Regions from separate parts of the Homo sapiens genome. Here all the other regions are linked to region 3. Evidence: fine-mapped expression QTL. A gene starts in region 3. Each other region holds a variant in brackets. All regions are shown on one strand. Distances are between the middles of the regions.

Region 1 (5,229 bases), 32 kb before region 3:
AAATTTCCAAAAACAACGAAAACTTTCATGCTCTGAGCACTGTAGAGAAAGGATTTGGTTATAAGGGTTCCTGCTTTCACAGAATTATTTCAGAGTTTATGTGTCAGGGTGGTGACTTCCCATGCCATAATGGCACTGATGGCAAGTTCATCTACGGGGAGAAATTTGATGATGAGAACTTCATTCTGAAGCATACAGGTCCTGGCATCTTGTCCATAGCAAATGCTAGACCCAACTCAAACGGTTCTCAGTTTTTCATCTGCACTGCCAAGACTGAGTGGTTGGATGGCAAGCATGTGGTCTTTGGCAAGGTGAAAGAAGGCATGAATATTGTGGAGGCCATGGACCGCTCTGGGTCCAGGAATGGCAAGACCAACAAGAAGATTATCATTGCTGACTGTGGGCAACTCTAATAAGCTTGACTTGTGTTTTAACTTAACCACCAGACCAATCCTTCTGTAGCTCAGGAGAGCACCCCTCCACCCCATATGCTTCAGTATCCTATAATCTTTGTACTCTCATTGCAGTTCCCTTTGTGTTCTCTCTTTTCCTTATTCCCTTTCTATGCCTAGCTGGATTGCAGAGTTAAGTTTATAACTATGAAATAAAAACTACATAACAATAAAGAGCATAACATTATCTGTAAGTTTCTCATAGATGCCCTTTATGAAATTAAAGCATTTTCTTTCTATTCTATTCTTCCTTTAGTGAAGGTTTCTAATCATGAATTGATGTTTTATTTTGTCAAATGCTTTTTCTGCATATATTGAATATAACTATCATAGTTTTCTCTTTTTCTCCTTGATGTGTGAGTTTCATTGATTGGTTTGAAGAAGACCTTGAACTAAGCTTGCATTCCTAAGATAAGCTCTACTTGGTAATAATATATTATCCGTTTTAGGCATTGCTCAATTTGATGTACTAATGTTTTGTACAGAATTTTTGCATCTGTGTTCATGAGGAATACTCATCTGTAATTTTTTATTTCTTTGTTTTATTATCTGTTTTTAAAATTTATTTGACAGGCTTTGATGTCAATATAATTCTGGCCTTGTGAAGGAAATTTGGGGCAGTTCCCTTCTCATATATTTTTTAAGAAGTTTGCAGGCTGGGCATGGTGGCTCATGCCTGTAATCCCAGTCTGAGGGAGTCTGAGGCAGGAGGATCACTTGAGTCCGGGAGCTTGAGACCAGCCTGGTCAACACAGGCAGACTGTCCCTACAAAAAAATTTGAAAATTAGCCAGACATGGTGGCATGCACCTGTAGTCCCAGCTACTCAAGAGGCTGAGGTGGAAGGATTCCTTGAGCCCAGGAGTTTGAGGGTGCAGCGAGCTATGATTGTGCCACTGCACTCCAGCCTGGGCAACAAAGCAATAACCTGTCTCAAAAGAAAGAAAAAAGTTTGTGTTAGATTTGTATTATTTCAGCTGGGCATGGTGGCTCACACCTATAATACCAGCACTTTGGGAGGCTGAGGTGGGAGGATCACTTGAGATCATGAGTTTGAGACCAGCCTGAGGAACATAGTGAGACCCTGTCTATACAAAATATTTTTTAAGGCTGGGTGTGGTGGCTTACACCTGTAATCCCAGCACTTTGGGAGGCCAAGGCAGGTGATCACTTGAGGCCAGGAGTTCAAGACCAGCCTGGCCAACATGGCAAAACCCCATATCTACAAATACAAAAATACACACAAAAAAATTAGTGAGGCATGGTGGTGCACATGTGTAATCTCAACTACTTGGGAGGCTGAGGCATGAGAATTGCTTGAACCCGGTAGGCGGGGTTGAAGTGAGCCGAGATCTCACCACTGCATCCCAACCTGGGCAACAGAGCAAGACTCTGTCTCCAAAATAATAATAATAATAATTTTTAAAAAGTTAGCATGGTGTGGTAGCACACGTCTATAGTACCAGGTACTTAGGAGGCTGAGACGGGGGATCCCTTAAGCTCAGGAGTTTGAGGCTGCAGTGAGCTATGATCAGTGCCACTGCACTCCAGCCTGGGCAACAGAGTGAGAAGTCATCTCCACTAAAAAAAAAAAAAAAAAAAAAAAAAATTTATACTATTTCTACCTTAAATATTTGATAGAATTCATCATTGAAACTATCTGGGTCTATGAGATCAGCTACTTCTGGATGATGCGGTATGAGAGAAAAAAACATATTCATGGGCTCACTCCTGTGCCTCCTTCTTTGAAGTGGGTTCCCTGCTCAAATGCTGTGTTTGTGAGAGTCCAGGCCTAGATGTCAGTAATTCTGTAAGCCCCCTAGAGAGTGGTACTAGCTGAGATTTTGCATTCCTGGAACCAGTATTTATCTCTGTGAGAATGAAATTCTGACCGTTCCAGAATTTAATAGTTGATTTGGTGGCAAATCAACTACTTGGATAGAAGGGGCCCAAAGTAGCTGACTTGCCACCAAGTTACGGGTTGTCTTCCTGGAGGATCAGTGCCATATATTGCCATATTAGTGGTAGGCACATTGGTCTACGCCACTGAAAGTTTGAATATTCAAAAGAGGCAATAGCTATATCGAACCTGGTAAAAAGTCCATGCTGTTGACCTATACGTAGCTTCCATATCTGCCACTATAGCATTTCTTGTGCTGGTTGCAGGGTGGCCAATGACAAAGACTAGCTAACATCAACTGTCCAAATAATGTTAAATAATTGGTTGCTCAGTGCCTCTTTGCTGGTGGATGTGTGCAAGTGAGGGTTAACGTGTGATACAAAAATCTTTACACTTTATGCCCACTTTCATATTTCCTCTGCCTCCATATATCTACCTGAGACTTCCTTGTCTTCAGTCTTCTAGTCCTTTTCCTTCCAGCCCCCTTAACAGACAGTTAGGCCATTTTCCACTATCTAGGATTTTTCATATATTTTTGTTTCAGGCGACTTCTTTCACAAAAAGTGGATGACTCAGTATACTTACAACAGGTCTGCCCATTGGAAATTTCACTCTCCACTTTCAAGGCCAA[C/T]TCGGATTGTACCTATAATACAGTCACTGTTTATAGTCAGCTTGCACACACATACTGAGACCAATCATTGACAAACCAAGATCATGCTTTTTCCTCCTCTATCAGCTGGTCGTATGAGACCCCTTATGTGGCCATAGGTGTAAGCTGGGAAATAAACACTTGTGCAACTACGGAGAGTGATGTACTGTATACTCATGCCCTCTGGTCATACTTGGGCTTAACCTCGGAAAAACTATTATGATGAACAGCAGCTGGGCCTGCTCTAATTTGTGATTTGGTAAGTCCCACCTCTGACATTTCCAGCAAATTTGGGGTCAGTCATGGGCCCGAATGACAGAACTGCTTGCACCACAGCCTTGCTTTAGTGGACAGCTTTTTCCTGCTCTGGGCCTCACTCAAAGCTAGTGGTACTTCTAGGTGTATAGTGTGTTATCTTATACACCCACAAATGAAAGATGCCTGTCACACACTGAGCTTCCTTCTTTGTGATAAGGGATGCAAGATGTGCCTCTTAATTTGAAGGGGATAGTCCAATGTTCCCCAGACTACTAGATCCATACAAACTACATCAAAGTGAGAGGTCAATAAATCTTCATAGTGTTTATCTTGCAAGTGTCTTATGAAGTCTTCTAGAGTATTATCCAGTCGGCATAATGTCATTGATGGAATGAATCAATATGACTTGTAGCGAAATTTCAAGAAGATCCAAATATCTTCAGATTATATTGTGGTAAAAGGAAGAGGGTCAGCATAGCCCTGGATCAAAGCTGCAGTTGAATATTACTCACATCACATGAATGCAAATTATCTCTAATCTTCTTTCTAATTGGAATAGAAAAGAATCCATTTCCCAAATCAATGACCACACACCACGTACCTGAAATCTCATTAACCTATTTTATCTCATTTATCTAGCAATAAAACCACATCCAGCACAGTAGCTACAACTGGGGCTATCACTTGTTTGAGCTGTGGTTTTCTGCTGTTATTCTCCAGAATCACCCAGTTTCTGCAGGATCCAGACTGGTGCTGCTAAATGAGGATATGAGAGTGAGTAGTGACCACCATCCCTGCATTTTTAGATCTTTAATAGTAGCATTAATCTCTGCTATTCCTCTACTCCAGGGTGCAATTTTTCTCCATTTGCTGCCTTGGCTGGGGGAAGGGGTGTATGGACGGTTTCAAGAGGTTTCCACTTGGCCTTCTCCACTATGATATGGCCTTCCCCACAGGTCAATGATACAAAGTGGGGTTCCTCTGACTGCCAGTATGTCAATCCTAGTTATGCACTTAGAGATTTGAGAAAGGATCACTGGGGGTGTCTATGGACCCACCGTAGCTAGAATTTACACAGGCATTTATTTGTTACCTGGCCTCATCAAACTCCAATCTCACGGGGGCAGAAGGAGGACCATGATGACACTGTGTCTCTGGAGATGAATCAAATTAGACAATGTGTCCTTTTTTTGGGGCAGGGACTTCTGAATTAAGATGATCCTTCAGTGCTATCCCAAGTTGAGGTGAGAGAGTGGTGCCTTTGTACCCCTACTGGATCAGTCATTAGGTGTTAGCTGCCCTGAAGAGGCCTTATCTCTGAATATGTTTGCCCAAGATTCCCAGCACCATAGCTATTAACTCCTTGTTCCTGAAGGGACATTTGGGCAATGGATCACAGTATCTACTACAGGAATGTCCTTAGAAACAATGTCTGTAAGAGAGTAAAAAAGCATGATTGGGCGGAGGGAGAAGTTGAAGTGTGATGCAGTTGTAACAGAGTCCTCAGCAAATCCAGGGAGCTCTGGAACTGGCATGACCCTTCAGAGTTGTCCTGAACTCTTGTACTCTTTGTACCAGAGTTTGTACTCTTGCTTCAACCAGCATTGAATGCAGGCTGCCCATCAAAAAGGGATATAAAGCCGGTTGCCGTGGCTCATGCCTGTAATCCCAGAACATCAGGAGGCTGAAGAGAGCAGAGATCATTTAAGGCCAGGAGTTCGAGACCAGCCTGGCCAACATGGTGAAACCCCATCTCTACTAAAAATACAAAAATAATCTGGGCATGGTGACACATGCCTGTAGTCCCAGCTACTCAAAAGGCTGAGGCACCAGAATCAGTCGAACCCTGGAGGCAGAGTTTGCACAGAGCTGAGATGGCACCGCTGCACTCCAGCCTGGGTGACCCTGTCTAAAAAAGAGTGAGACCCTGTTTAAAAAAAAAAAAAAAAGGAAAGAAAGAGAGAAGTAGAA
Region 2 (5,229 bases), 42 kb before region 3:
AGCTAAGGTCTGTCTGCAGCCGAGTTGTAAAATCTACTTTTCTTACCCCATCTTCCTCTCACAGACACTTCTTCCTACCTCCATCCTCAGCCTCACATTCTGGGGCCCAGCTTTGAGTCATCTTGACTAAGGATCCATCCTCAGCCTTGGGTCTTGGTCTGGTAACAGGGCTCTGCCTTGGTGCCTGTTTTGGTCCTGTTCATGCTGTTATAGGTATTGTCCCAATACTCCAGGTCCCTCTGCTAGAACACCTGGGCTGCTCTTGCCAATCCCCTCCCAAAGAGATTCCTAAGCTGTCAGGCCTATGGCTATTGCCCTGGTGCCTACTTGCAGACAACTGTGCTTTGAGAACATACCAGAAGCCCACTGCCAGCTTGTATGGATCTCTTTACAATTTGCCTGCTGGATTCTGATGCAATATGCTGTCCCCTCAGGCCCCAAACTTTGCAGTCAGATGGAAACTTTCCCAGAGCCTGAGGAGTCCAGGGGTCCCCCATCCCTCAGTGCCTGCCTTAGCCCTAGTGTCAAATTCAGTTCTATAGCCAAGCTTTTTGCTACATGTACCTGAGACAAGAAAACAAGACAAGCGGAATGTATTTTATGTCTATATAGCAGTTTATAATTTACAAAATTCTTTCACATTATCTCATTTGACCCTCACACCAAACTCACGATACAAAAAATAAGAAATTTCCGTATTTTATAGATAAGTGCAAGTGACTAACTGGGGCGATCAACTGTCCCAGTTTGTCCAGGATTGAGGGAGTTCCCAGACTGCAGGACTTTCAGTGCTAAAACCAGGACAGTCCTGGGCAAACTGGGATGGTCAGTCACCCTAGGTCACATAGCTAGTAAATGACTGAGCTAGGATTTGAACCTAAGGCACCTAGCCTGTACTTATTACACTTATTGAGTTATTGAACTCAATAGTTATTATTGCTAATATTATTTAACAGTTATTGAGTTATTGAGCTCAATAACTGTTAAATGAATGACAGACACCTAGTCTGTCTCCTTTCCACTGTGCCATGTGCTTCTCCTAAACAGCAGTCTCTTCAGACTAATACATAAAGGTGTTGCTTGCCTTCTTTCTTCTTGAAATGCCAATCAGTGGAAAGGAGAAGGGAAACACTGCTTTGCAAGAGAAAAGCATCCTTGCATTAACTCCATGTCAGAATAATCACTGACAGTAATAATTTCAACAAAGGGATTAATTACAGAGTCTGTAATTATCTTAGCAAGAGCTTGAAATCAAAAATGATTGTGATGGGCCACTAACCCAATCAATATATGCACTCTGCCCTGGGATAATCTAAGACTGACTGCATATATGAATATTCAGTACATGTAAATTTTAAATCCTACCATCAGATAAAAACAAAGAGTTGTAAGAGATTTAGTGGTCAGTATACGTCCTTCCATTCAACCTTGACTTCACTGAAACCATCTCAGAAAAGATAACAATTGGTGCTCCTTTTAAAGATGTCCCTCTGAGGCAAGCCCAAGAGCTTCTTCAGGTGCCACTTTCAGCCACCACTGAATGATGAGTACAGCTTAACCTAAGCTTAACCTTTACTTAGCTTAAGCTAGTAAAAGGAGTTCTGGATATCAGAGCTTGTTTACTTTCCCTCTACCAGACTCTCTGTGCAGGACACAACCTCCAGTTTCCTATCCCCTCAAACCCCTGCCAACTCAAGCTCTCCTCTGTCACCCAGGATGCCACTATCCCCCAAGACTATGTCTAGCCTTTCTTTTGACATATTTCCTTAGTTAACTTATATAATCTTCTGGGATAATTTTTTTAAGAGATAGAGTCTTCTCTGTTGCACAGGCTAGAGTGCAGTAGCACAATCATAGTTCATTGCAGCCTCAAACTCTTGGGCTCAAATAATCCTTCCTCTTTCAGCCCCCCGAGTATCTGGGATTACAGGTGCATGCCACCAAGCCCAGCTAATTGTTTTATAGTTTGTAAAGACAAGGTCTAGCTGTTGCCCAAGCTGGTCTGGAAGT[C/A]CTGGCCTCAAGCAATCCTCCCACCACAGCTTCCTAAAGCACTGGGATTACAGGTGTGAGCCAACACACCCACATCTTTCGGGATAGTTAATTCCAGAGATTTGTATGCACCCAACATTTAACTTTTTTTTCTTTCTGGATATCCATCATTCATTCAGCAAACATTTAGGAAATGACTATAATGTGTCAGGCACTGTGCTAGGTACTGAGGCTAGTCGCAGAAAAGTTACAGGAGTTCCTAAGGCAGTTAAGGGAATACAGAATAGAAAAGTCATTCCTGGAAAAGAGGACAGCATCACATATACAAGACAATATGCTCAGACAACTACAAAATAAGTTCAAAAAAGCAGGAGGCAGGAAGTCTTTAGGAGTTGGCACCCATGGCCAACTGGATAATTCGGTACTTTTCCAGGAAGTCTTCTCTGGCTAATCTCGAGAGAACCAATAGCTTCTGCCCCTCACCTTGAATAAACATAAGGCATTCAAGACCTCCTGAGGCCATCCTCTCTTATTTTCCAGTTTCCAATTGTTTTCCACTGTGAAAATATCTTAGCTCCTATTTGCATTTTCTTTTCCATCACTCTCTGTATATACCCTATATACTAATCGACATCAATGTTTTCTGCCAGCAACCACTGGGAAGGGTGGAGTAGCCGTCGCTTCCTGAGACCCAGGAAGAAGAGAAAACCATGAGGTTATCATCTCTGTGCTATGATTAAGCTACTGTGTGTTTCCTTCAAAGTCTGGTTAACCTAACTTAACACAACCTCAAATACCTGTCTCTGTGAAGCATGCTCTATCAACTGAAGGAACAGAATCCCTTACACTCCCAAAGATGCTTTCCAATGGCAGAAAGGGAGCTAAGCAGAGGACTGGCTTAATTCAGGCTGTATTAAAAGCAATACCAAGAAAGGGAAGGGAACTGAAAGAAGGCTAGGAAAAACAAGGGAGGAGGAGAAAGTGGCTCTCTAGAAAATGTTCCTGGTTTTCAACACTATTACGGGCATGACAATCATGTGCCTGCTCCACACACAGGCTTAGCTAGAAGTTATTCCCCAAATCCTACCTGCCAAGCCTAAGCTGATTGGAAAAGTGATAGGATCTGATCCAAGCTCTGTCACCCCACGGGCTGGACAATGGCCTGTGAAGCAGCCTCAGCATGATGATACTGATGGCTGTAATAATAGCAGCTATGATGCATTAGGGGTTACGATGTGCATGGTAGATAATTTATCTCATTTAATCCTCGCAACAACTCTATGGGGTACATACTATTATTATCTCCCTTTCACAGATGACAATACATGTTTCAAGAGGTTTCACAAGTCTGCCAATCTTAGAGGATTGAGTCAAACTCTGGTCTGTCTGATTTCAGAACCAAACCCTTCCTCACCTTTCAGTATTGCCTTTCATTCATGTATTTATTTATTTTAAAAAAATTTCTTCTGTACCCGCTATTAACCAAGCCCTGTGGCAAGTGCTGGGGATACAATGGAGGCCAAGACTTAAAAAGACCCTGCCCCCTGGGGCTTATACTGCACAGAGGAGATAGATACACAGTAAGCAAATAACACAAATAAGTACAGGCTGCATTCAGTAGTATGAAGAAGACGAAGAGTTTGTTATGATAGGTATAGGGGAGGCCGGGTGTGGTGGCTCATGCCTGTAATCCCAACACTTTGGGAGGCTGAGGTGGGCAGGTCACTTGAGTTCAAGAGTTTGAGACCAGCCTAAGCAACATAGCGAAACCCTGTCTCTACAAAAAATAAAAAAATAGCTGGGCGTGGCGTTGCATGCCTGTCATCCCTGCTACTCAGGCGGCTAAGGCTCAAGGATCACTTAAGCCCAGGAGGTGGAGGTTGCAGTGAGCCGAGATCGTGCCACTGCACTCCAGCCTGGGTGACAGAGCAAGACTCCGTCTCAAAAGAAAAAGAAAAAAAGAGAAAGAAAGGAGAGGTGTAAGGAGACTTACTTAGATAGGTGGTTAGGGAAGCCCCCTCAAGGAAGGGACATTACACTGAGATCTGAAGGATGTGACAGAGCCAGTTATAAGGTGACCTGAGAAAAAGGCAAGGGAACAAGATGCAGAACAGGCAAATCAAAGAAGAGACAGAGGTCAGTGAGGCTGGGTGTCTAGAGAGCTTGGCAGAGGCTGGATGTCACGGGGCCTTAAAGTCCACCAGAGGAGTTAGAACTGGCTTCCAAGTGCAATGGCAAGCTACGGGATAGAGTAAAGCAGTGGAGAGTGGAGATGGCTGGTTTACTTTTTATTAAAAAGAGAAGGGGCATAATGCAGTAGTTAAGAAGATAGACTCTGGACCGATAATGCCTGCACTCAAATCCCTGACTTGCTGCTTACCAACTCTGTAACTGTGACAACCTCTTCTGTGCCTCAGTTTCCTTATCTTGGAAATACAGACACTAACCAAACCTGCCTCAGAGGGCTGTTGGAATGATTAAATTAATTGCTATTTGAAACCACGTAGAATACTGCTTGGTATCTAGTAATAAACATGCTTACAAAATACATTAATAAACATAATTAATAGATGTCTTTACAAACATAACAACATAAATTTGTTTTGCAGACGTACAGAAATGTAATATCAAAAGCATGCTTTTCTTTCAGTGAAGCCTTTCTGCATTGTTCTTTCTCTTTCTTCCTCTTTCTCCCGCTCCACTACATCAGCAACTGCTCCTCCTTAAGGTAATTTATGTCAGGAACGCCATATGTTTCCGACCACAGAATTCTAAATAGGCAGACATAAGATTTATGTGCATACACATATGTGGCATTCTTTTATCTTTGTTTTGCAAAAGTTAAATTATTATGTACAATTGACCCTTGAACAACTCAGGATCTAGGGACGCCGACCCTCTGCACAGTCAAAAATCCATGTATATCACCACCACTAGAAAAAAGAAAAAGATATTTTGTATGTTATATGGATTATATATGTATTCTTACAATAAAGAAATAAAGAAAAGAAAATGTTATTAAGAAAGTCATAATGAAGATAAATATATTTACTATTCTATTCATTAAGTAGAAGTCAACCATCATAAAGGTCTTCATCCCTCATTGTCTTCATAAGTAGGCTGAGGAGGAGACGAAGATGAGGGGTTGGCCTTGCTGTCTCAGAGGTAGCAGAGGTGGAGAAGGTGGAGGAGGTGGAAGGGGAGGCAGGAGAGGAAGGCACTTCCTTGGTGTAACTTCTA
Region 3 (5,229 bases):
CAGGGCCACAAACATACTCCCTTCCCGCAGAAACCACTGGGCGGGAGTGAGCTTGTAGGTGGTGGCCCCAGACAAGAGCAGGTTAGCTGTGTAGGCTACTCCTGCCAACAGGTCTGAGAGGGCCAGATTGCCAATAAAATAGTACATGGGTCGGTGGAATTTCTTGGTTTTCCAAATGGTCAGCAAGACAAAGATGTTCTCCAGGATGATAAAGCAGCAGATGAGAATGAACACCACCGAGGTCAGTTTAATGCTGTTCTCCTTGTCCGCGCTGATATTCAGCTTTCCCGTGTAGTTGTAATGCCGGACGATGATATCATAGTTGACGTAGTCAGAGACCGAGCTGCGGTGGGCCTTGACCAGCGGGACGCTGGTGGGCCCCATGGTGCCAACCCTGTGTCCCCAGGAAGCCGGGGTGGCGCTACTCCAGACGAACGCTAGAGGGCGAGGCGAGAGAGCCTTCACTGGCTTCAGGGGTGGTTCGATGAGTGATCCAGGCTTTTTGTGTAGCTTTTCCTTGGCTGGAGAGGGCCTCGGAAACCGCAGCCTTAAACAAGTCAGAGGAGAGAGTCAGGGAAAGAGCCACAGCATACTGGCATAATTCATTCTAGCTAAGGCACTGCTCCAATTGTGTTGTTGTTGATTTGTTTTAAAGAAACTTGGGGAGAGCTCAGGGAGAGAGATTTTTTTTAAAAATCAAATTATCTTTTTTCTTCCTTTTTTTTCTTTTTTCAAAAAAGGAAGAGGGGGAAGAAAAAGAGAGGGAGAAACTCTATGGCCACATTCACTCAAAGGGAAATGGGAATTACGATGTTGGCTGTGGGTTGACAAAAAAAAAAAGATGATGAAAAGGAAAACAAGGAGTGGGAGGAATGGGAAACCTAGAGAACTACACCCCATTTTAACTCCACTCCTGCCCTCTCACCACCCCACACCCCCTCACCCCCGGATTTCCAGCCATGAGATTCTCTGAAGCAGTCACCAGCTTAGCTGCACGCTCAATACCAGCCCACGTCTCTCCTCGGAAAAGACTCAACTGCCAGTCTGAGGGCGAAGACACACACCTCTGTCCCCCATGCCCACCCCCAGCCCCCCAGTTCAAAGATACTAGCACCACCTCCTAATTGCCATGTGCCATGCAAGAAATCAGATTTGCAGGAAAATCATTTGAAAGCGTAAGCCATTTGGGGGCTCTATTAATAACTCTCTAGGAGCAGGTGTGCTTAGGGTCCGAGGGCGCAGTGAGGTGTGGGCAGCCAGGCCCGCCCCGCCTTGCTGTAAACAGGAAAGCTTAGCGCCTCCGTGAAGCGACTGCCTTTTCTTTCTTCTTCTTATTCTCCCCGCCTCCCCCCGCGCCCCCCCACCCCACCCCCCACCCCAAGCCAGGGCAAGTAAATTTAAAGGTATTCAGTTAAAACCATTCATAACAGATTGCAGCAAATCCCAGAAGTTTCGTACATTAGTTGATTGCATAAATATTTTTTGCTTTGTTTAGTTTAGCCAAAACATACACAAAAGAGAGAAATCAAACTACTCATGACAGCCATAATACATGCTACCACATTTCTAATTTCGATTGCAAAACTACTCTTCAGAAACTCACATTAAACTGCTCCCTGGTGCATTGCTAAATTTGCGTGGGCAGTTTTATTTACTGCAGTCCCCCAACACGTTGACTCCTCTCCTAGGACTAGAAAGTTACAAAGAAACTTTCTAAGACGGCACTGGTCAGCAGAAGTCTACTTCTAAGTTGCTTAAATATTTCAAGGTAATGCAGCAATGCAATAAAATGAGGTAATAGAGATGAGAACAATCCCAGCAACTCCGCGAACAGCAGAGGCTGCTCAAGCCAAGAAGCTCCGCATTTTCCCCCAACTAATTTTATACCCTGCTCCTGGGCAGTACTAATTTAAGCCATTACCCACGCTCCACACCACCCACCATATTCTTTGTCTATAGGATTTCCAAAATTTAACGCCTTCCCTCCTATTCCTCCGACCAACTGCAATTTTCACTGCCCCTACACCCGTAGGTTCCACAGTTGGGAATTAACCTTTTTTCTGAACTCCATAAATCACAAGTGCCCAAGAACAATCTGATCGAGATGGGCTCCTTAGTAGCCCAGAGATGCAAATTTTCAGCGCCCGGAGATGCATGTTTTCTAAGTTTTTGTTTGCCTCGTTCGACTTAAAAATTCGTTTCTGACACCTAAGCCCTACCACAACCGGGCTCCCCGCGCCCGCGACCCCCGCCATTCGCCGCCCCCTACCTCGCTCAAGCAGGGCGAAGTTGCGTTCGGAGAGCCCGGGATCTGTACGGCTCGCTTCGCATCTTGCTGCTGCCCCCGACTGACTGCGTAGTGCTCTCGCAAACTTACTCGAGTCGGGGTCCCCTCCCTCCGCAGCGGAGCACTCCAATGGCCAGTCCCGCTCGCCGCGGCCAGTTCCCTGCCTGCTACGCGAAGTCACCCAGCGCCGCGCCAAGGCTGGGTGGTTTCTTCAGGAAGAGGCTGGGAGGGGTTAATGCCTTAACCCCCCACGCCCTCTGTCAGCTGGGGGCCCCCGGATCTGAACTGCTGAGACGCACTGTCCAGGAAAGATCTGGGGCAGAAGCAAAAAAAAAAAAAAAAAAAAAAAAAAGAACCCCTCCTCCCCAAACAACAAATGAAAGAAAAAAAGAGAGAGAGAGAAGGGGCGGAGCCCGGTAACCCCTGGATTCTACTGTATAAATCACTGCCCTCGCCCAGATAGACGCTGATCCCTGGCTGTGGAGAGGATTCTCCCGAGCCCCTGAAAAAAAAAAAAGGTGGAGAGACTTTGAAAACTTTTCTCTCGAAAAGTCTGAGGAGGCAGAGGACGGCCCGGAGTCTCGTAGCGCACCGCCCTGGTCCCACACCCCCCGCAGCCCTAGGAGGATCGGTGTGCTGAGCTTGTGGCCAGGAGCTCCCCGAGCCACTTTCGCGCGAGCAGCAGAAAACCTGAGCCGCGGCCCGGCGAGTGTCGGCGGCGCTCTGGGGAGGAGAGGCTGGGAAGGGGCTGCGAGAGGTACGGAGGAGACAAGCAGCCCGGGAGGGAGAATGAACCGGGAGGTTCCTGTACTCCCCCCGCCACCCCAGATCCTCGTGCTACTCGCAACTGCGGTCTGAGGGGCAGTGGCTTTCCCAGAGTGCACAGAGAAATGAACCAGCGCCGGTTTTGGTGTTGGGCGAGGGGTTTCCCTCAGCTGAGCACAAAGTCAGGCTGTGTGTCCCAGATTCTGGCCAATGGAGAGGTCGTTGAGGGGGTGGGCTGCTGCTGAGTCCTGAGAGATTCAAAACGCCTGGGCAGCTCAGGAATTTCCAAAGGGGGAGATTCTCGGCCAGGAGCTGCGGAGCAACTGCAGCTGCCCAGCAGGAGCCGGCACCCTTCTCTCACATTCTGCTTGGGAGTCGACTCAGAGGCCTCAAATCTCATTACTAGCACTTTGCCCACCCTTTTCTTTTGCTTAGATGCTACTTAAGAACGTGAGGCTGAGAGGCGGACTTGGTCAGATCTGCCTGCGTGACAAGCTCAGGACAGGACGCTTCTGCCCTTGCATTACTGTTGTAAAAGTTTCCACCCAGTCCCTGGTCGCACTGCGTTCCCATCCCGGCAGATGTGAACTCAAAAACTTCCTCCGCTGTGCAGTTTCAATTGGCAGACACACCCTGTACCTGAATGACTCAGAAGGAGGCAGAATGAACAAACAACAGACCCCTGACTTCTGGGATTTTGTGAGTTTGCCAAAAAAAAAAAAAAAAGAAGTGACAGTTAATTCACAGCTGTTTTAAAGCATTCATCGACAGCGACGCACCCAATACATACCCACAGCTTCAACAACAGTACAGTGCATATAATGTGGAAACCAAGATAACGGTCCTCTAAGACTCCAGAGTAGATCCTAATTGGATTTGAAGACTTATTTCACTTAAAGGGGAAGAGGTATATTGTGTCTACCCAGCACAACAAAACGGGGGACTTGGCATTCCCCCCCTTCTCCCGCCTCCACCCACACTAATTTATGCATTCTTTAAAGCCAAAGGAATCAAAGTGAAATTTCACACCTAGTCTGTATCAAGCATGTGCTAGGTTAATTTAACCTTACTGCTCTGTGAAGTAAGTAAGCATTGCTGGCCATTTTATTGTTGAGAGAAGTGTCATTCAGACAACTAAGGTGACTTGTAGATTTCCCAGCTAGTGAGTGGCAGAGCTGGGTTCCAAAACCTAAATATTGCAAATGCCTTGCCTTGTGGCTCAAACGCTATCAGTCAATAAATAGTTAAGGAATTGAAATATATGTTCCTAGAGGGAAACAGACTTCTAGATTTAAAGTTTTACATTTGCTGCATTTCTGACTGTACAAGTCTACAAAATGCATATAAAAGTATGCTAATGAATGTCCTTTTAAAACCACTCATTTTCTACGTAAGCATACAAAGTGTATACATATGCATATTAATGAATGTTTTCTGAAACTTCTCATTGTCTGCCTATGATATCTCATGTAACATTGTACTTTTAGTATTTGCACATAGTGTTACACATATTAATCCATTTAATCTGACAAGTTAGGCACTATAATTATTCTAATTTTACAAACAAGGAAATTGACTCCCAGACATATTAAGCAGCTTGCTTAATGTGGGACAGGCTGCAGACTCTTAACCACTACTCCAGACCACCATGATAAACCTCAAACAGGTTCAAGAATTTCCTTGGGGATATCAGTTGTTTTCTTGTGAATACCACTGGTTTTTAACATTCAATATTGATAAAGTGTTTTACAGAGTCCAAAAACCTTTCAGATTGTTATTTAATAATATTCATCTTTAGTACACACCTATGAGATGTAATTGTAGATGATCAACTTAGGTAAAATTAGATAGTAGGCAAATGTTTCCAGCAATGGCGTCCTGGCCAATTCCAAGTCTCTAGTTCCCATATAAGTCTCTTCCCATTGCTCTCCAAGGAGGCCCTAAAAATTGCATTCTCAAGCTATCTCCTGACTGCCAGTACAACTCCCTGTCTGCTGCTGCCTAGAAGTCAAGCCCAACATTCCTACCTTAAGTTTGCTCCATTTCCAATTTTTGATTTCAAAGTGGCTTTGTTGTTCTTTACACATGCTTTAGTGTTTCTCTTTAAAAGTTTACAGATAAAATACCACACAATCTTTGGAGCATACACTAAACAAAAATTTGTCATAAATGTGCCA

What was found. PIP is the estimated chance that this variant, and not a neighbour inherited with it, causes the effect. A credible set is the group of variants that fine-mapping cannot tell apart.
Region 1: its variant is the best candidate, but not a certain one, in a credible set for the expression of S1PR1 in NK cells (Gilchrist 2021, PIP 0.54).
Region 2: its variant is the best candidate, but not a certain one, in a credible set for the expression of S1PR1 in whole blood (TOPMed, PIP 0.58).

The regions. Positions count from the first base shown.
Region 1 is chr1:101,266,059-101,271,287 of GRCh38, reverse strand. It overlaps the pseudogene PPIAP7. Among named protein-coding and RNA genes, the nearest start is that of S1PR1, 32 kb to the right of the region's middle. The variant C/T (reference allele first, on the strand shown) is at 2,983.
Region 2 is chr1:101,276,514-101,281,742 of GRCh38, reverse strand. No RefSeq gene overlaps it. Among named protein-coding and RNA genes, the nearest start is that of S1PR1, 42 kb to the right of the region's middle. The variant C/A (reference allele first, on the strand shown) is at 2,011.
Region 3 is chr1:101,234,140-101,239,368 of GRCh38, reverse strand. S1PR1 (sphingosine-1-phosphate receptor 1) reads right to left here and starts at 2,350. Exons shown (of 2, transcript NM_001400.5): 1 at 2,270-2,350; 2 at 1-547. The coding sequence starts at 384. S1PR1-DT (S1PR1 divergent transcript) reads left to right here and starts at 2,841. Exons shown (of 2, transcript NR_104626.1): 1 at 2,841-3,044; 2 at 3,488-4,496. RefSeq lists enhancers at 488-537, 3,171-3,260.